Regions from separate parts of the Homo sapiens genome. Here all the other regions are linked to region 2. The links come from fine-mapping of genetic effects on gene expression. A gene starts in region 2. Each other region holds a variant in brackets. All regions are shown on one strand. Distances are from middle to middle.

Region 1 (7,309 bases), 790 kb after region 2:
CTGAGTTTCGATCTGAGCTTCATCACCCACCAGCTGTGTGACCACGGCGGAGTCACCTAACCTCCCTGAGTGTCTGTTTCCTCAATTGTCAAACGTTTGTAAGGACTGCTTTAAAAGGTAGGTGTGGAACCTGGACCAGTATCCAGTACATAATAGTGCTAGAAAAATATACAGCTGATTACCACTGCTGTGTTACCCTGGGACAGGCATCATCTCCCTCCCTTAATCCTAGAGAGATGCTCCCCTGTGTAGCAGTTGAAAACTGACGTTCCCCTGTGTAACAGTGATGCTTTATTTACTGACTTCCTCTTTCGTCTGCAAGCTCTACAGAGTCAGCATCCATTCTGTTTCATGCATTCACCCCCTCCAACCCCATCCTCATTAAACAGCATACCTGGTATACGGCAGGTACTCTAAAGGTATTTGTTGAAAGAATGAATACATTTTCAATAAATACAACCATTTATTTAAAAATTGAATTAAAAAACAGTTTATCGGGATTCAGGCTTTCTGGCCTTTGGAGCCATTTGTTCATCCAGTGGAATTTATTGGGTGGATAATTTGTGCCTGGGACTCTGCTAAATGTTGGAAGTTGAAGGATGAAGAGAAAACCATTCAGTTCTCCTGGTCTTAACTGTGTTGCTGAGAAAGAGAACTGAAGGTAGATTCTGGTTTATACTTGCAGAAAATTTATAAACCTATTAAGGCTTACAGTATTATTGTAATTCCACATAGATGGCATCAGTTATAATAAGCTGGCATCATAAAATGACTCAATATTTAGAATTTTCCGATTTGTCACACACTTGCTGTAAAAATTTTATGTGATCTCTTCTCTCCATCTCCGTAGCTGCCATGGTTTTCTCATGCCTAGAACATTGAAATGCCTTGTTTCCCTATTTCTCTCTCCACAGAATAGCACAAGTCATTTTTCAGCAGTAAAATCATATCTATTTCCTCGCTTAAAACCACCCAAGGGCTTCCTACTAAGTTTAAAATGTAATCAAAATGTATGGAGTTCTAAGCCAGGGGTCTGCAAACTTTTTATTTGCAGAGGATCAGGTATTACATACTTTTGCCTCTGTGGAATATACAGTCTGTGTCCCCGCTACCCAATTCTACCAATATGGTGCGAAAGCAGCCATAGTCAATACATGAATGAAGGGGCACATGTGTATTCTAATAAAACTTTATTTAAAAAACAACAGGCAGAGAGACACATTTGGCCCATGGCCCATAGTTTGTTGACTCATGCTCAGAACGATCTTGCCCTTGCCCTTGCCCATCTCCCTGTCTCACCTGGTACTACCGTCCCTCAGGTCATTCCTGCCTCAGGTCTCTGCACTTCCTGGCCCCTGCGTCTGGAACATCCTTTCTCCATGCCTTTACTTGGTAGGCTCCTTTATTTCACTGGGCTCAGCTTCAACATCACCTCTTTAGAGAGGACTTTTCTTGACCTTATGTCAATAAAACAATGTACCTTGTTTTATTTTATCCGAAACTTAAATTATCTGGCTTATCCATTTCTGTTGGCACCTTTCTCCTCCCAGGAAGGTGGCAATGTCTTAAGAATAGAGTTCTAAATGGTCTTGGTCACTGCTATATCCCCAGCCCCTATAATATTATCTGACTCATAGAAACTGCCCGATAAATACTTGTTGAATGAATTTACTGAGGAAATGGTTATGAAGAATTGATTTGAAATAAGGGTTTCCCCGAAATTATAAATGTTTAATGACATTTGGATCTGCCACTCTGTTTTACTCAGCTGCAGTGCTAAAAATTGCTGGGCTATTCACAGTGGATCCTTTGGTATCAGGGATAGGATCCAACGGCGCTGGTGAGCACGTTCTGTGCTAGGACAACTCAAGGACTTTTTCACTTTTGCTTTGCAGCTGCTCAACCGTCACCAATTTTCATTTTCGCTAGAAATTCCTGTCAGGTTTATCTTTTCAAAAGACTGTAGAATGATCACTACATTTCTGAAGCTACAAATGCTCCTTTGCCCTGCTGCCACTTTAAACTATTATTTTAATTAAGTTACTCAATTAATTTTAATATTTTTACTTTTATTTTTAAATATTTGATGCCACAAATCCTTCCCTCTTCCAAATATAGAGTGATGGAAGGATGACTCCCGGCTTGGGCCTAAAATATCATATCCAAAAAATTAGTGGGCAGGGCTATTAAGCGTTTATTTTTACAAGGAAGTAATCAAAGTGAACCCAAGGGCCACATCTCCCCAGTTCACCCAGAATACAAAGGTCTAATGTGAATGATATGAGCATGGGTGATGGGCAGAGGAGAGGCAGATACATAGGCTAGTCCAGGAATAAGACTTCATGGTTAGAGAGGAGAGTGTTTCAGGAAACAATGGGGTGTCCATCTCTTGAGCTGATCTCCAGCCCCAGAGATGCATGTGTGAATTTAGGGGGAGAGAGAGCTATAAATAAAAATGAAAAGAGTTGTTTTCACAGTTATTCACATTAAAGAAGAAACATACAGTTCTGTTGGTTGGTTAGATACTCTTCTACCAGAATAAAGGGGTTCAGGCATTCTCTCCTGTCCCAGCAGATGCTTTGGTATCCAGCTCCCATGAGCCAGCAGCCAAGGGTCCTAACATGTGCAATGGTGCCCATCAGGGCGGGCCTGACATGTGCAATGGTGCCCATCAGGGTGGGGGCCTGGGATATGGAGGAGGGAAATCCCAATGGCTATGACAAGGGAGCCGACTGTCTTGGTTCTGAGCCGGTGTGAGATATCACCAGAGGACCTTCAGACATAGTTAGGAGCAACTTGGCAAAGATTCAGTTTCTTTTTTATTTGTATAGATTTAACAGTACAAGTGCAGTTTCGTTACACGGACATGTGGCAGAGTGCTGACGTCTTGGCTTTTAGTGTAACTATCACCTGAGTAACATATATTGTACTCATTAAGCAATTTCTCACACGTTACACCCTTGCCACGCTTCCACCCTTCTGAGTCTCCAAAGTCTATTATTCCACACTCTATGTCCATGTGTACACATGATTTAGCTCTGACTTATAAGTGAGAGCATGCAGTATTTGACTTTCTGAGTTATTTCACCAAAGATAATGGCATCCACATTGTTGCCAAAGCCATGATTTTATACTTTATTTATTTATTTATTTTTTTGAGACGGAGTCTCGCTCTATCGCCCAGGCTGGAGTGCAGTGTCACGATCTCGGTTCACTGTACACTCCGCCTCCCGGGTTCATGCCATTCTCCCACCTCAGCATCTTGAGTAGCTGGGACTACAGGTGCCTGCCACAGCACCTGGCTAATTTTTTGTATTTTTAGTAGAGACGGGGTTTCACCGTGTTAGCCAGGATGGTCTCGATCTCCTGACCTCGTGATCCACCTGCCTC[A/G]CCCTCCCTAAGTGCTGGGATTATAGGCGTGAGCCACCGCACCCGGCTGATTTTATACTTTTATATGGCTGAATAGTATTCCATTGTGTGTGTGTATGTATGTATGGTGTGGTGATGAATATACGTAGTGATAACCATGAGTGCAGGTGTTTTTTTGATACAGTGGCTTCTTTTCCTTTGTGTAGACGCCCAGTAGTAGCAGGATTGCTGGATTAAATGGTAGTTCTATTCTAAGTTTTTTGAGAACTATCCATCCTCCTTTCCATACAGTTGTATTTGTTTACATTTCCACTAACAATGTATAAGCATTCGCTTTCCTCTTGAACGACTAGGTGGAGTCAATAGCTAGTGAAGTTCAGATAATACTTTTCATTCCATTTAGCTGTGAATTTTCCTTTTGGGAAATGGTCTCTGATTGGATTATGCAACTCTTTCATAAAACGTGTTTTATGGTCACCTAAACACATTTTAGGCGACCATAAAACACATTTACAGTGAATTGTACCATAACTCAAGTGCTGTCTCCTCCAAGCTCAAGGGCTCTGCAGCATGTTAATGATGCCATCCCTGGGCAGCACTTCTTCACTAAAATTCCAGTGATGACCTAAGGAAAGGGGCCAGTCTCAACCACTGCATTCCTCTGCCTCCACCACAATATCCAGCAAGGATTCCATAGCAAGGCCATCCACTATCTACAAAACAGCTAGTGAAATGACCACAAAAACTTGTAGATACTGAGTGTCATCTGGAGAAACAAACAAAAATATCCATCAGTATGTTTGTGTGTGAAAAGAAAGACTATTGTATCCTGCTGCATGAACAAGCTTAGCCAAGATACAGACTAAAATCCTCTGATTAGAAGCATCACCTGAATAGGGATCAAAACATAACAGGGCATATCCGCCATCCCATTAATCCAGCTCATGTAAATATATCCTATAGAAATTGTCACAAACATGGGAAGAGATGAGCTCTCTTCTGCAGAATTGATGGAAGTGTAGAAAAGTGAAAACAACTTAAATCGATAGGAAATTGGTTAAGGAGACGATGGTAGATCCAGACTCTAGCTGTTTGAAACAATGATGTTGCTTGATGTTTATTGATTTACAAAAATGTCCATAGGACCCTGAGGAGTGAAGAGAGAGATTTACGGAAAAGCACATAGAGCTCCCATTCTGTAAAACTGTGCACCTGCATCTCTCTGTGTAGAGATGCCAGGAGAGAACCCCAGAACTGCACTCACTAAAATGTCAACTGTGGTTATCTCTGGATGGTGGCACTGGAGAGTGACTGCATTTTCTTTCACTTGAAAAGAACAGAATTGCTTTATTTATTTTTTAAAAAATATATCTACCTAAGGAAAAAAAAAAAAAAAAGAAATAGCCACATGCCTGATATTCCAGAAACACATAGGATTGGTTGGGGCAGTTGAGAATGGAGGAACCTACAGCATGAAAGTCTGAAAATATCAGCAAAAAAAAATTAACAGTCAATGGGTTGAAAAGCCACATCACAGTTACTGCAACAAGTAAAAAGTAACCAGAAAAGGGACTTTACTACCAGGCCATAGCAACAACCTGAACACCATCGGCTGAGCTAGGTGTCAAATATCAACTATCAACTATCCCAGCCATCTTTATTTAGCTCAAGCTGTTTTGGAAAATAGCAACTTCCAAGCAAAGCTGAGCTCTCAGGATAGCCATTAGTCCCAAAGGCGACTTGATCGGCTGGCTTTTTCTTATGTCTGGAATGGCTGGATGTGTTTAAAAATTAAAGGAACTGTGTCTTGAAAAGGAACTCAGGTGGATCCTGGAGGAAAAATAAAAGACAAAAACTCCCTACATCATCTCTTCAGAGCGGCCTCCTATCTCACTACAAGACTAGGTTTGGCCCCTCCCGAGATGAGCCTCCCATACAACTATGTTGTAGCACTTGCCGCAATTTTCTTTCTGATTTATTGGATGCTATCCTCCCTCCTCAGCTATGAATACCAGGAGGGAACAAGCAGCACCTGCCAGGTCCAGTGTTGCACATTCAGAGCTTAGAATAGCGCCAGCACAGAGTAGATGCTTGCTAAGCATACTGGATGGAAAAAAAAATTAAAGGGACTAAGACAGGAAAGAGAGGGAGGGAAAGTGGCTGGGCTTTCAGAAGTTAGACAATGAGGACGTAACTGCTAATCTCTGCTTGTCTTCAACAGCCTCAAGAAGAAGGATCAGACATGCCTAAGCAATGTGCATCTTTCAGGACACAGAACGTGCACCTTTAGGTAAATGCCACATTCATCTTTGTCAGTCATGCAGTTTGGGAGCTAATTCTTTCCTTCTGTGACCTCTCACCACCTATCTTTCTCAAAGCTGCCCCACCCGTCCAGGGTGGGGGGCTGCCATTCTCCCAGCTGCCCTGGCTGCCATTTGGGGTGGCTAAAAGCCAGGAGAGCGAACACAACCTACAGCCAGCTCCTGATGTTGTTGGAAGGCCGAGGCCTCAAGAGGACAGGATATTGGAGCTGATGGATCCCAGGTTTCCCTTGCGCACAGCTGGCGGCAAGTGCCTGGAAATTAAAGCCCCCCATCCTTGGGGACAGCTTTGAACCTATGTCTCATTATCAGACTTGGGGGAGTAGATATTCTAGCTACCTGCCCCTTAGCTGAGATAACTCTAACGTATGTGTTTAATGTCATTTCCTTGAGCTCCCCAAAAAGGATAAAGCTGCAGTTACCCACTCTGGGAGCTGCTTTAATAATGCACCTCAAGGGCCAGGTGCAGTGACTCACACCTGTAATCCCAGCATTTGGGAGGCCAAGGTGGGCGGATAACCTGAGGTCAGGAGTTCAAGACCAGCCTGGCCAATGTGGTGAAACCCCATCTCTACTAAAAATACAAAAATTAGCTGGGCGTGGTGGCAGGTGTCTGTAATCCCAGCTACTCGGGAGGCTGAGGCAGGAGAATTGCTTGAATGCAGGAGGCACAGGTTGCAGTGAGCTGAGATCATACTATTGCACTCCAGCCTGGGCAACAAGAGCAAAACTCCGTCTCAATAGTGATAATAATAATAATAATAATAATAATAATGCACCTCAAGTTGTCTGACTTCCTTTTCTGTACCTCACCTTACCTGGTATCTGTCCCTGTACCTCTCAAGCAAACCACAGGCAGGCCTCAATCTTCATCTCAGGGCCTGCTTCTGTGGGAGCCTGACATGCCATTCCTCATGGTCAGCCATTCTCAAAGGTGCCCAGGAAACCACCAGAGGGCAAAACACCCATGAATTGATGCCAACAAGACATGATGGGGCCTTGGAATTAGTGCCCTCCAGGAATTTCAAGAGTTCTCACCCTCTACCCCCTACTCATGAACACCATGTCTTGGCCATCAGAAAACACCAAACTCACACAGAGATCTGTATGCCCCCAAGGAGCAGCCAGAGCCTTGGCTTGGGCCTCATAAATCAATGTCTGTGGCTCTGCAAAAGCAACAGCTCACGATCTGCAAAGTCAAAGACCATTATGTTCTGCTGATCTTCCTTCATCCAGGAATGATTCACCAAAACAATACCCCGGAGTTCAGTGCTGAGCAGCCGGAATGGTCTCCTGTCTGCACATACAGATAAATATGGGTGACCTTCCTTTGTGATAGATTGGTGCCGAGGGCATTCGAACACATGGGGACATGAAAATGACGCGTGGTTTGCTGGAAGATGAATTTGTCTTCACACAACTCATGTGTCTCTTTGCTTTACCTTTGCTAAAGGGTACTCTTCCAGAATAAAAATAATAATTGCACTGTTAACAATACAAAGGCATTCATTGTACATTTACTGTTCCCTAAGCACTGGGTGAAGCATGTTGTCTCACTGAATCCTCACATATACTTCTCTAAGGTAGCTACTGTTATATTCTATCCCCATTTGCAGAGG
Region 2 (7,284 bases):
TTGGCCTTCCAAAGTGCTGGGATTACAGGCGTGAGCCACCGTGCCCACCCTTATTTATTTTTATTTTTTTTTTGGGGGGGGCTTATTTCTTTAATTAAAAAAGACTTCAAATAAATATGATAAAATGTTACTCATTTTCAATTCTTGCTGGCAAAACACGGGTATTTGTTTTAATGTTCTTTGTTCTTTTGTCTTTTAAAAAATTTCTGAAGCCAGGTGTAGTGGAGCATGCCTGTAGTCCCAGCTACTCAGGAGGCTGAGGCAGGAAGATCTAGCCTGGGTAACATAGTGAGATTCCATCTCTTAAAAAAAAAATCATAAAAAGGAAAATCACATGAAAAGAAACAAAAATAGTGAGAATATCTATGATAACAATAACATGAGCACATTCAAATGAATAATTTTTTTAAAGGTCATTCAAAATTGGCCAATTCAACCGCACTTAACTTTAAGAGCTGTTGTCTGCTGCTTTCTGTGTTTGTGTGGTCTATTGAACAAGACTAAAGGCTGTGCGTGTGGGGACTGGTTCTTAAACTCATCAATTTTGCATAGAATGCCCAGCCACAGGAAGCAACAGATAAATGTTTGTGGAAAAAATAAAGAATAAGCGCTCAATATATAAATATTAATATGTAATTAATAACAAGAGCTACCATTTAATAATGGCCCACTATATGCTGGGACATTTAATTATAATTCTCTCCTTATACTCCTGTATAATTATTCCAGCTTACAGATGAGGAGACTAAGGCTCCGAGAGGTTAAGCTCTGGGCCAACAGCCATAAAGCTGGCCAGCTGCTGAGCCTCAACTTGAACCCAGTGTCAATGGCTCCAAGACCAGTGTCTTTCCACTGAGTAATGCCAGTTCCCTATGGCTCCTCATACAAGGTTCATCTGGACAGTTGATGCTTAAGATATATTTGTTGCCTGGAACACAAATCAGCTGGTTTATTTGTTGCCTGCGTTCAGAAACTGGAACACAAATCAAGTGGTTTTTTAATGTAATCACTAAAAGGTTTCCTTTAGGGCACCAAGTCTAGTGGGAGCAGAAGCTGAAGCCAGGCTTCCTTCTTTCCTTTTTTTTTTTTGAGACGGAGTCTTGCTCCATTGCCCAGGCTGGGGTGCAGTGGTGTGATCTTGGCTCACTGCAGCCTCAGCCTCCCCCTTGGCTCACTGCAACCTCTGCCTCCGGGGTTCAGGGAATTCTCCTGCCTTAGCCTCCCAAGTAAGTGGAATTACAGGAGCACGTCACCACGCCCTGCTAATTTTTGTGTTTTTAGCAAAGACAGGGTTTCAATATGTTGGCCAGACTGGTCTCGAACTCCTGACTTCAGGTGACCCACCTGCCTCTGCCTCCCAAATTGCTGGGATTACAGGCGTGAGCCACCGTGCCTGGCCATGAAGGTTATCTTTCAAGTCCATTCTGGCAAACTTTGGTGAGGGGATCACACACTGACCCCAGAACCAAGTCTTCATTCGGACTCTCTACCCTAGGTCAGGCACTGGACTAGACTCCAAATTCAATCAAGATGTCTTGCCCTGACACAACATGCAGTCTGGAGGGAGAGAAAGCCTTTGATCTTACATAGTGATAGCAATAAAGGGACACATTTAAAGCATCAAAGTTGGGACCAGGGAGAATAGCGTGGTGGGTTAGGGCTGGGGCTCTGGAGACCCAGACTGTCTGGGCCTGAGTCTGGTGGGTTTTGTTTGCTTGTTTGTTTGTTTGTTTGTTTGAGACGGAGTCTCCCACTGTCGTCCGGGCTGGAATGCAATGGCGAGATCTTGGCTCACTGCAACCTCCGCCTCCCGGGTTCAAGCGATTCTCCTGCCTCAGCCTCCCAAGTAGCTGAGACTACAGGCGCCCGCCACCACGCCCAGCTCATTTTTTGTATTTTTAGTAGAGACAGGGTTTCACTATGTTGGCCAGGCTGGTCTCGAACTCCTGACTGACCTGATGATCCGCCCGCCTCGGCCTCCCAAAGTGCTGGAATTACAGGCGTTGAGCCACCGCACCCGGCCAAGTCTCTTCTGTCACTGACTAGCCGAGGGTTATCTGTTTGGTGCAAGTTTTGTAACCTCTTAAGTATGTTTCCTCCTCAGTACGAAATGGCGAGAGAAGCCCCTACTGCAGAGCGTTGCTTGCTACCATTATTATTATTGTTATTATTTGGCTGTGAAGATCGGGTATGTGGTGTGGGAAGGGGGCTGGAGCGCCTAGCCGTGTCTGCCCCTCGCCCACCGCCCTCCCTGGGGGGCAGTCGGCACCTTCCTTGCAGCCCCCTCGGCCTGCGCTCCCGTGGTCACCCGCAGACTCCTCCACGCCGGGCTCCTGCGCGCAATCCAGCTCTGCTGCACCACCTGTCGCAGGCTCCGAGGGCTCAGGGTGCATGTTTACTTCGGCGACACCGAACGCCCCGCAGCTTTGGGGGGCCCAGGTTCGCGGCGGACGTCGCTACGGCCCCAGCCCAGCCAGAGAGTACCCTCTTTCCTTCTTCGCCAGCCGCTGGCGCCCTAGTCTTTACAGCCCAACGCTTCCCCGGTCGCCCAGGCAACCGCTGCGCACGCGCACTCGGGACGGACCGGCGCGCTGGGGACGCCGGGGGGTGGGGGCGGGTCTGAGACGGCTCCGCCCCCGGCGCGTACGCGGGTCACGTGAGGGCGCGGCGCGGCAGCAGCTCCGGCGGCCGAGACGGGGGCGGCGGCCGCGCGGGTCTGGCGGGACCGGTTTGGAAGACTTTGCCGGCCTGCAGGTACCGCGCCCCCCGCGCCCTGGGCGCCCTCTCGCGGTCCTTTCGCCCCAGACCCCTCCTCGGTCCCCTCAGCGCCAGCCGGCTGCTTGGCGAGACCCCTCTGAGCTCTCACCACGCCCCCCAGGCCCCGGGCCCCCTCCGCTGCATCCGGCCCCGAAGCCCCTTGGCGCCCCTGACCCCAGGAAATCTTCGTCCCTCCGTCCCGTGAGACTCCTTCCTTCAGACCAAAAAGCCCCAGCCCCGCCCCTTCACATCTCAGAGCCCCCCTTCCCCCGGCTCCATCCTCACGCCCCCCGCCGCGGCGCTGCACCCCTGTTCTCTCTCTTCCCCCGGGCCTTGCCCCCCAAACCGCGAACCCCGTTGTCGCCGGCGCATGCCCTGCCCTCCCTGCAGCCTCTCACCCGGCTCCTCCCCCGAGCGGCCCCAGCAATCGCCTCCTTTGTCGGTGCTTCTTTATTCTCATTTCTGAACGATTTGGTTTGAGTTGTTGTTGCCGTGTTTTTCTAAAATGGAAATATGCAGCGGTCGTGGGTTCAGCCAGGATTTCCGAGTTTGCTCGTGTTGACTGGGCCTTGCCGGGTGCTGGAGGGGAAGGGCTGGGAAGAAGAACCAGGCAGGTCCCCGTTCTGAACGTGCCACCCAGACGCAGCCCCAGAAACCGGATCGCTGCAGCGCCCCTCGGCGATCCCAACATGATGTGTACAGGTGACTGCGAGGCAGTCGGGGGGTCTCACAGTGGGCTCCCTGGACAGGACTCTGCGCCTTGCTATACCTCCATCTGAATTGCAGGTAGCCCCTTTCTGAGTTGTGGGGTCTTGGGTGTGCGACTTTACATCTATAAGACTCAATTTCCCCATCTATAAACGGGAGAGTCTGACTGCGCTTTATAAGATTAATGAGAGAATAAAGTGAGACAATAGGAATAAAGCACTTAGCAGAGTCTTTTGCATAAAGTGAGCTCTCAATTTTACTCTGACCGCCACAGGAGAGAGAGAGAGAGAGAGAGGGAGGGAGGGAGAGGGAGAGGGAGGGGGAGGGGGAGGGTGTTGATTGATTGATTGATTCAGACAATCTCGCTCTGTCGCCCGGGCTGTAGTGCAATGGTGCCTGCGATCTCAGCTCCTGCTACCTCTGCCCGCCATCCCGCACCCCGGGCCCAAGTGATTCTCCTGCCTCAGCCTTCCGAGTAGCTGGGATTACAGGCACGTTCTACCACACCCAGCTAATTTTTTTTTTTTTTTTTTTAGTAGAGACGGGGTTTCGCTGTGTTGGTCAGGGTAGCCTTGAACTCCTGGCCTCAAGTGATCTGCCCGCCTTGGCCTCCCAAAGTTCTGGGGTTACAGACATGAGCCACTGTACCCGGCCAAGTTTGTGGTTTTAATCACTGCTGGAATATTCTAGGGCAACAGAGTTGAACATATTGGTGCTACTTTTTTTTAAAGTAGGTTTTCAAAAATCGAAATGACTTACGCATGACATAAAATTTATCATTTTAGCCATTTTACAGTGTATAACTCAGTAGTTCTTGCTATAGTCACAATGCTATGCAACCATCACCAGTAACTAATTCCAGAACATTTAATCACCTACAAAAGAAACCCCAACCCCATTAACAGTCATACCTCTTTTCTCCCCCTGTCCCTCAGCAGCCCTAAGTTATCTTCTGTCTCTATGGATTTGCTTATGCTGGACATTTCATACAAGTGGAAACATACAACATACGGCCTTTTGTATTTGGTTTCTGTCCTTTAGCATAATGTTTTCAAAGTTTATCCATGTTGTAGTATGTATCAGTACTTCATGCTTTTTTATGGCTGAATAATACTCCTTTGTGTGGATAACACCACATTTTGCTTATTCATTCATTTGTTGATGGACATTTTGTTTGTTTCTGCCTTCTGGCAGTTGTGAGTAGGCCACTGTGAACATGCAAGCAGGAGTTTTTATGTGAGCAAAAGTTTCTAATTATCTTGGGTATCTGCCTAGGAGTGGGGTACTCTGAATATTTTAATTCTTACTGCATAAATACAGACATGATGGTGAAGAGTGTTGGATCTTGGATGAGAATCCAGGTTTCTAATTCCATGTTGCTGCTCTTTAGGCTCAGCTTCATTGTGCGTTTAGTCCTATACCAAAAATTGGCAGTGAAGGTAAAGACATCCCAAAAAGTCTTGATACACCAATGCTAACTTTGTCATAGTGCTGACGCAGAGTATGAAAAGCTTAAGTTTTTTTCTCAAGAGTGAAATTTGAGCTTTGAACACAAAGCAGTATTTGATTCTGTTTATTAAATAAAGTTGTCTACAGCAGCATGTCAGGTGCTGAGGAGGAATATTAAAGATGTGTGAGATCCGGCCGGTCACATCCCAGTGCTTTGGGAGGCCAAAGTGGGCGGATCACAAGGTCAGGAGTTCAAGACCAGCCTGGCCAATATGGTGAAACCCCCGTCTCTACTAAAAAAGAAAAAAATACAAAAATTAGCCAGGCATGGTGGCACACGCCTGTAGTCCCAGTTACTTGGGAGGCTGAGGCAGAAGAATTGCTTGAACTTGGAAGGAGGAGGTTGCAGTGAGCTAAGATCGCGCCATTGCACTCCAGCCTGGGTGACAGAGTGAGACTCTGTCTCAAAAAAAAAAAAAAAAAAAAAAAGATGTGTGAGATCCCAGCCTCACACCATCACAAAACGCCAGGAGGATTAAAGACTTAAACTGAAAAAGCAAAAATGTAAAATTTCTAGAAAATAATTCGAAAAAATTTCTTCATGACCTGAGGCTAAGGAGGGATTTCTGAAATAAAACAAACCCTAAAGCAGAAAGATTGATATATTTGTCTCTTTCAAAATTAAGACATTCAGCCAGGTGCAGTGGCTCCCACCTGTAATCCCAGCACTTTGGGAGGCCAAGGCAGGTGAATGGTTTGAGCTTACGAGTTTGAGACCAGCCTGGGCAACATGGTGAAACCTCATCTCTACACACACAAAAAAAATTTAACTGGGCTTGGTGGTACATGCCTGTGTCCCAGCTACTTGAGATGCTGAGGTGGGAGGATGGCTTGAGCCCGGAAGGCGGAGGTTGCAGTGAGCTGTGATCATGCCACTGCACATCAGGCTGGGCAATAGAGCCAGACCTTGTCTCAATAATAATAACAACACATTTAGTTCATGAAAGACACTATAATGAGACACAAAACATACAGAGAGCTAGTATCTAGAATATTTAAAGAATTCTTACAATTCTGAGAGAAAAAAAAGGAAAGGACAAAAGATAGGAACGGGCATTTCATAGATTACAAAACACAGAAAGCACATACATATAAAAAGGACTGCAGCCTTACTAGTAACCAGGGAAATGTAAATTAAAACCATAATGAGATACCATTTCACAGCCACCCTGTTGGCAGAAGGTGAAGCTTTGGACGCTACCAGCCAGTGACATTGAGGAGTGGCACGAACCTGCTGCTGGCGGGAGTGTGAATGGGTTCTGCCGCTTTGCAAAAGCATTTGGCAGTGGAATGCATGTGGACCAGCAGTTAAACCATGGGCAAATCCCTTTGCGAACTCTTGCACAGGTGTGCAGGAGATGGGGACAAGCGCTCCCTGCAGCACTGTTCCTAACTGTAAATCAAAACCAGCAGAAACAGTGCACGTGCCTAGCACCAGCAGCAGGGGGACCTGTGAATCGTGGTGTATCTGAACCAGCAGCAGGGGGACCTGTGAATCGTGGTGTATCTGAACCAGCAGCAGGGGGACCTGTGAATCGTGGTGTATCTGAACCAGCAGCAGGGGGACCTGTGAACTGCAGTGCATCTGAACCGTGAGATACTGTGCAGCTGCCGAGGAGGATGGACTATATAGCTGCAGGGGCATGGATGAGTCTCGGGAATGATGTTGAGTGAAAGAAACAAGTCACCAAAGGGTCCATGTGGTGTGGTTCCTTTATGTGAGGTTCAAAACCAGGCGAAACTTAGCAATACTGTTTTTTTTTTTGTTTGAGACGGAGTCTCGTTCTGTCGCCCAGGCGGGAGTGCTGTGGCGCGATCTCCGCTCACTGCAAGCTCCGCCTTCCGGGTTCACGCCATTCTCCTGCCTCAGCCTCCCGAGTAGCTGGGACTACAGGCGCCCACCACTGCGCCCGGCTAATTTTTTGTATTTTTAGTAGAGACGGGGTTTCACCGTGGTCTCGATCTCCTGACCTCGTGATCCGCCCGCCTCGGCCTCCCAAAGTGCTGGGATTACAGGCGTGAGCCACCGCGCCCGGCCAGCAATACTGTTACTGTTTCAGAATACATGCTTGGGGTATACAGCTGTTTTGTTAAAAGAGTCAGGGAGTGACTACCCCAGAATTTAGGAGAGAGGCTGCCTCCAGGATAGAGGAGGGGCTGTAATCAGAGGAACAGCATACAGGACTTCCACGACACTGGTTTTGTTAAGTAGGCTGGTGGCTAAGTGGCTGTTTTATTATTCTTTGAACTGTGCATAATAGGTTTTACATACTTTTGTATATATTTAAACATTTTTGCCAGGTGCAGTGG
Region 3 (6,904 bases), 120 kb after region 2:
AGCGATCTGCCCTCCTCGGCCTCCCACAGTGCTAGGATTATAGGCGTGAGCCACCGTGCCTGGCCACGCTGCTTATTTTCGGGAAGATTTGCCTCGATGTCCTAAAAACAACCACCTATCCACTGCCTACCACCAGCACCAACAAAACCATTCCAAAGTAAAATCAAGTCCACAGGGAGATGTGTCCAGGGTTTACCACCGGATCTCAGCTTTGTAGCCATTGAGCTCGTCTCTTCCCTTGACCATCAGTGAGCTCTGCTTCTGTTCTTCATCTTGCCTTTTCTTTGAGAACCCTTTTTAGGAAAAAAAAAAAAAAAATCTTGAAACATTTCCATTTCTCTTCCTCGTAATCAGTCGGCGTGCTGCTTCAGGGCCTCAGCAAGCCACTTCTGTGGATTTCTCACATTGCTTCCTGCACGCCCAATATTTTGAAAGATCTGAAGAGCTGATTTTGCTGTCAACTGTTTGTCTGGACTGAGTTTAAGAACCTCTCTCTGTGCCCAAGCGCCATATGGTGCAGCAGACCTACGCCGGGGCCGCCTCCCCGATGCTTGCAAGGGGTGCCCCTCACCTTTGCCTCCAGCCCTCACCGGATTCTCCTAGCAACGAGGCCTGGGCTGCGTTTCCAGGGACACGGGATGCCGAGATGAAGAGCTGGGAAGGATAGGAACTGAAGGAGTGGGAGTAGGGGCTCAGGCTAGAGGTGGGGGCTGCCAGGATCTGAAGCGGGGGAGAATAAATGTAACTGAAGGTGCTGGGAAAAGGGGGTAAGGCTGGAGAGGGCTGCAGGAAAGGGACGGTCACATACTGTCATCAGGAACTCTGACCTGACTCAAACACAGCGTCCCCGCCCAAACACATTTGGCAATGGGGCACCCCCGCCCCAGGCCTGTCCAGTCAGTGAGAGGGGCCTCAGGAGCAGAGGGGTTGTGTCCACTCCCAGCCAATGCGGCTACACCAGGACTTCTAGTGTGTGTTTGTTTGTTTGTTTGTTTGTTTGTTTTAATTTTGCTTTTGTGGCAGACTTGCTCTGTCGCCCAGGCTGGAGTGCAGTGGTGTGATCTTGGCTCACTGCAGCCTCCGCCTCCTGGGTTCAAGCGATTCTCCTGCCTCAGCCTCTTGAGTAGCTGGGATTACAGGCGCCTGTCACCACGTCCAGCTAATTTTTGTATTTTTAGTAGAGACGAGGTTTCAACACGTTGGCCAGGCTGGTCTCGATCTCTTAACCTTTTGATCTGCCCACCTCAGCCTCCCAAAGTGCTGGGATTACAGGCGTGAGCCACTGTGCCTGGCTGGTTTTTGTGGTTTTAAAAAATATCTTTATTGAGATAGGATGCATATACCGTGCCATTCACCCTTCTGAAGTGTGCAGTGCAATGGATTTTAGTACAGTCAGAGCTGTGCAACCATCACCACAGTCAATTGAGAACCTTTCTGTTGCCCCTCGAAGAAACCCATCGCCGTCAGTCACTCTCCATTCTCCACCTCTGCCCGCAGCTCTTGCACTTCTTGTCTGTCTGGATTTGCCTACGATGGCCACCTCCTAGGAATGGAATCCTATTGTGGCCTTTTAAGACAGGCTTCCCTCCCCCGCCGTGTTGGTGGGATTCATCCATGTTGTAGCCACCCTATCTGTGGTCAAATAATATTCCATTGTGTGGATAAGCTGCGCTTTATCCCCTGTCCTTTGATGGGCATCTGGGTGGGGTCCACTTTTTGGCCACTGTGTCGTCTTCCTGTCTCCTTCCATCACCGAGCAACTGCCCACTGCCACCACCTCCTGGGTACTGCCTGCCCTCAGCAGGCCTGCTCTGCTTCCCCTTATAAAACCAGTAGAGGCTGGGCACGGTGGCTCATGCCTGTAACCCCAGGAATTTAAGAGGCCGAGGCGGGTGGATCACCTGAGGTCAGGAGTTCAAGACCAGCCTGGCCAACATGGTGAAACCCCATCTTCACTAAAAATACAAAAATTAGCCGGGCATGGCGGTGCGGGCCTGTAATCCCAGCTACTTGGGAGGCTGAATCAGAATCCCTTGAACCCAGGATGTGGAGGTTGCAGTGAGCCAAGATCATGCAACTGTACTCCAGCCTGGGCGATGGAGCGAGACTCTGTCTCAAAAAAACAAAACAAAACACCAGTAGAAACCCAACTGCGGAGTCAAACAGGGAGAAAAGGAGGCACCCTCCTGCCCACCAACCTGTCTGGCACTACTAACTGTCTTTTCCCTTATATTGGACTCAGCTGTGCCCCTATACGCAGAGCTGCCGTTCGGGGACTCCCCACCTCGGGGCATCTGCCGTGCCCTGAAGGCAGAGCCTGCCATGGGGCTGAGGTGCTGGTGCACGGAGGTCCCCATTGTGGGCACTGGGGCTCTAGGACCACAGGGCTGACCTGAGAGTGTGGGGTGAGCCCCACAAGTGCTGCGGGGGTGCAGGAGGCAGAGGGGTTGCGTCCCCCCTGCTGGCAGAGCCCTCCTGTAGGACAGGAAACCTGGGGCCAGAGAGCAGGGGTGCGCGGTGCCTGAGGTCAACGCGCCAGCGGAAGGGCTGTGCTCAACTAGGGCTGGAAGCCGGAGGGAGGAGGCCACTGTGCCCTCCTATATTTCCAGAATGTGTCCTGGGGGTGAGAGGACAGCTGTGCTGGGCTTGTTTCCTTGGCTTGGCTCACTTGCACCGAGGAGGACTCATGAGTGACAGAGCGAGGCTGGGTGGAGGGAGGCCTGGTGGCTGCTGGGTGGGTTCACGGGATGGGTAGGTGGGTAAGCCCTGTAGTGTTTATTCAGCTCGGTGCAGGCTCCGATCCTGGCCCAAGCTCAGAGCCCTGAGCAACGCAGACTTGGTCGTTGTTGTCGTGTGGTTGAGAGACGCTGAGTAGACAAACCGAAAAGCCCGCTCGTGTTGAGGACACGGGCTGTGTGAGAGAGGAAACCAGCCCACTCGGGAGGGCTCCCCAGGAGGGTGCAGAGGAGTTGGCTGGACTCGGAGAAAATCCGGCCAGAGGGACCAGCAGTAGCAAAGGCCCTGAGGCGCGGAGGGAAGACCTAGCTGATCTGAGCTTCCTGCGTAGGGTCCCTACAGGGCGGGCAGGAATGAGGCCTTGGCACGTTTGGTTTTGGCCAGGAGTGAGAGAGTGGGTGTGATGGTGGGAACCAGCCCCAGGAGCCTGGGAAGAACCCTGAACCCACCAGTGTGTCCGGAAAAAGCATCCCCGCCCGGTGTGTCTGGACAGAGCAGAGCCTCCCTGCCCAGCCCTGGCTGTACATCAGTATTCTCTTGGCTGTTCGTGAATCACCAATGTCCACGACCCACCCAGGGAAATGAATTCACATGACTCATGGGCTCTTGGCATTGACTGTGTATGTTTTGCGTTAAAAAAATTCTTGCACTGGGCTTGGTGGCTCACGCCTGTAATCCCAGCACTTTGCGAGGCCGAGGTGGGAGGATCACTTGAGGTCAGGAGTATGAGACCAGCCTGGACAACATGGTGAAACCCTGTCTCTACCAAAAATATAAAAAATTAGCTGGGCGTGCCTGTAATCCCAGCTACTCGGAAGGCTGAGGCAGGAGAGTCGCTTAAGCCCGGGAGGCGGAGGTTGCGGCGAGCCAAGTTCGCGCCACTTCAGTCCATTCTGGGTGACAGAGCGAGACTCTGCCTCCCAGGCTTGAGCGACTCTCCTGCCTTAGCCTCCCAAGTAACTAGGATTACAGGTGCTTGCCACCACACCTGACTAATTTTTATACTTTTAGTAGAGACGGGGTTTCACCATGTTGGCCAGGCTGGTCTCGAACTCCAGACCTCAGGTGATCCACACGCCTTGGCCTCCCAAAGTGCTGGGATTACAGGCGTGAGCCACCGCTCCCTCCTGCGTTTAAAATTCTTATCCCCCTTGGGCATGGTGGCTCGTACTTGTAATCTCAGCACTTAGGGAGGCCAAAGCAGGAGGGTCGCTTGAACTCAGGAGTTTGAGACCAGCCTGGGCAATGTAGTAAGAAGTCATCTCTACCAAAAAAAAATGCTTACCCCAATATGGCATGTCACATATACAGTATGTAGATTCTAAGTATGTGTGCACCCATGTGACATGGTCAAGCCCCCGGGAACCCCTTCATGACCTTTTCTGGTCAGTAGCACCCACCCTACCCAAACCACCATCCTGCCTTCTAGCACCACAGAGTGGGGTTTGCGTGGGTTGGTTATACCCCCAGGGAACATTTGACCATGTCTGCAGACATTTTGGGTTGTCACAACTTGGGGGAGGGGGGCTGTTACTGGCATGTAGTAGGTCCCGGCCAGGGACACTGCACAACACCCCCACCCCAAACACACAGGGCGGCTGCCAAGAGTTAACCCACACCAGACATCAATCGTGTCAAGGCTGAGAAACCCTGGTGTAGAAGTGTTTATCTTGTAACTTGGACTTCGCATCCATTAACGGAAACATTCTCTGCTGCCCGGCTTGTTTTTCTTTTGAGACACAGTGTCACTGTGTCTTTCAGGCTGGAGTGCAGTGGCACGATCTTGGCTCACTGCAACCTCCGCCTCCCGAATTCCAGTGATTCACCTGCCTCAGCTTCCTGAGTAGCTGGGATTACAGGTGCTCATTACCATGCCCGGCTAATTTTTGTATTTTAAGTAGAGATGGAATTTTGCCATGTTGGCCAGGCTGGTCTCAAACTCCTGACCTCAAGTGATCTGCCCCCTTCGGCCTCCCAAAGTGCTGGGGTGACAGGTGCGAGCCAGCGTGCCCGGCACCTATGTGGCTTCCTGTGGTGTTCATTGTTCTGACTGAGATTCGTCTGTGTTGAGGTGCATGGTTCTTTGTCAGAGCCACATCATGCTCTGTGTGTTAGTATCCTGCCATTTACTTA[C/G]GCCCTCTGCTCTTGGTGGGCATGTGGGTTCTGTTGGGAATAACGCTCAAAATCTTAAGAAAACGGAACACTGAAAGGATTCTTAGCAAAGTAATTTTACTTTTGTGCAGAGGGGTGCTTTTTCTTGGTCAGAGCACACCCGAGCAAAGGAGTACAAGAGCCTTTATTCCTGATGCAAGTCCTGCTCCTGTACCCTTTTCCCATTGGCTGGGGTTGGGCCGCACAATCTAAACTAGCCTCAGTTGAACATTTGAACTTTTTTTTAGATAAGGTGGGCAGGTAAGGGAGAGAGGGGAAAGGGGCAGTGGGTGTTTGTAATGAGCTAGAGAGCTAGTTTTTTAAAAAATAAGGAAAGGAATGCGAGCTTGTATTGATAATGCCTGGTACTGTGGCGTGTTTGGGCATGTAACAAAGGCAGAAAGGAAGGAGAAAAGGAAAGAGGGGTTGGGGGTGTACTGTGAATTAAAGAATAAAGGATTGATCAGGCTATTTCAAGAGAAACCTCATCATATCCCACATTTCCCGCCTTTTGGATATGAGTTTTTTTTCGCATCGCCTGTTCCAGGGGAAGCCAGCATCCTGCTGAGCCGCCCTCTGTCTTACAGTGTCACGAAGCTGCCGTCTCCATCTACTGCAGCATGCGCAAACGGAGCCTCTCCCACTGGGCCCTGGTGTCTGTGCTGTCCTTGCTGGCCTGCTGCCTCATCTATTCACTGACGGGTAAGGCCCTTCCCAGGCACCCCTGCAGAGGGTGGGGAGTGACAGTAGAAACAAGAGTAACAGCGAGTATCTCTCTAGAGAGTTTACCACGTGCTGGGCTCAATACTCAATGTTTTGAGCATCTTATTTAATCCTTAGTGTGCATAGGAAAAGGCCTCATTTCATAGATGAGGAAGCTGAGGCTCAGGTGCCCTCCAGAACTTGTTCGAGGTTTCACAGCTAGATCTGCAAAGCTGAGACCTGAACTCCAGCCTAGCCGTCTCCAAAGCCCGTGCTCTGACACACCACACCCCAGCCCTGCTGCCTGCTGTTCAAAGGACATTGACTGCTGTCCGTCATTACACTGTAACATCTGGGTAGGGTTTACAAAACGTTTGTGGGTGCAGTGGACTCAGGTGCTCACAAACTGTGTGTGGGAGGCAGAGGGTCTTTAAAGGTGATGAAAGTGTGGCTCAGAGAGGGGCTGTGACACGCAGGATCGTACAGTGCATTGGAAGGACAGTCCCAGGTCCCTGGCACGGCTGGCTTCTGGTTGGCCACTTGACGCCAGTCTTTTTTCATTCACCAACGTATCCTCCAGTCTAGGAAGCTCTTGGGCTGCAGTGAATCTCTCAGGCAGCCTTGGACTCCTGTGTGTTATGGTTTGAATATTTATCCTCTTAAAAACTCAGGTTGAAATTTAATCCCTGATGTGGTAGCATTGAGACGTGGGGCCTTCAAGAGGGGATTGGGGCATGAGGCCTCTGCCCTCAAGAATGGATTAATCTATTCATGGATTAGTGGATTAATAGGTTATCATGGGAGTGGGGCTGGTGGCTTTATAAGAAGAAGAAGAGAGACCTGGGCTCACACACTCAGCCCCCTTGCCATGTGACACTCTGCGCGCCACTTCAGGGCTCTGCAAAGTCCCCTCCGGCAAGAAGGCTCTCCCCAGATGTAGCCTCTTGATCCTGGACTTCTCAATCTCCATAACTGTAAAAAAATTTCCTTTCTGTATAAATTACTCAATTTCAGGCATTCTGTTGTAACCAACAAAAAATGGACTAAGACAGAAAATTGGTATCAAGAGTGGGGTGTTGATGATTGACTACCTGGAACGTGGAAGCGGCTTTGGAGCTGGGCAATGAGTGCAGGCTGGAAGAATTCGGAGGAGCAGGCTAGAATAAGCCTAGATTCTGGTGAGGGCTTAGAGACAAGACTAGGGAACATTTGGAACTTCTTAGATACTCTAGTTAGTCATGGAAATATGGATAGTAAAGTCTGTTCTGAGGAGGTTTCAGACGGAACTGAGGAACAAGGTTTTGGAAGCTGGAGT

Evidence for each region. PIP is the estimated chance that this variant, and not a neighbour inherited with it, causes the effect.
Region 1: its variant is fine-mapped to the expression of DNAAF1 in testis (GTEx, PIP 0.91).
Region 3: its variant is fine-mapped to the expression of DNAAF1 in left ventricle (GTEx, PIP 0.97).

The regions. Positions count from the first base shown.
Region 1 is chr16:83,348,738-83,356,046 of GRCh38, reverse strand. All of the region lies in intron 6 of CDH13 (cadherin 13), which reads right to left. Among named protein-coding and RNA genes, the nearest start is that of CDH13-AS1, 47 kb to the left of the region's middle. The variant A/G (reference allele first, on the strand shown) is at 3,391.
Region 2 is chr16:84,140,550-84,147,833 of GRCh38, reverse strand. It overlaps DNAAF1 (dynein axonemal assembly factor 1), which reads right to left and starts at 2,526. Exons shown (of 12, transcript NM_178452.6): 1 at 2,270-2,526. The coding sequence starts at 2,393. HSDL1 (hydroxysteroid dehydrogenase like 1) reads left to right here and starts at 2,657. Exons shown (of 6, transcript NM_031463.5): 1 at 2,657-2,754. RefSeq lists silencers at 2,473-2,922, 3,083-3,132, 3,183-3,232.
Region 3 is chr16:84,021,460-84,028,363 of GRCh38, reverse strand. It overlaps SLC38A8 (solute carrier family 38 member 8), which reads left to right. Exons shown (of 11, transcript NM_001080442.3): 7 at 5,475-5,589. Among named protein-coding and RNA genes, the nearest start is that of SLC38A8, 18 kb to the left of the region's middle. RefSeq lists an enhancer at 739-1,240. The variant C/G (reference allele first, on the strand shown) is at 4,870.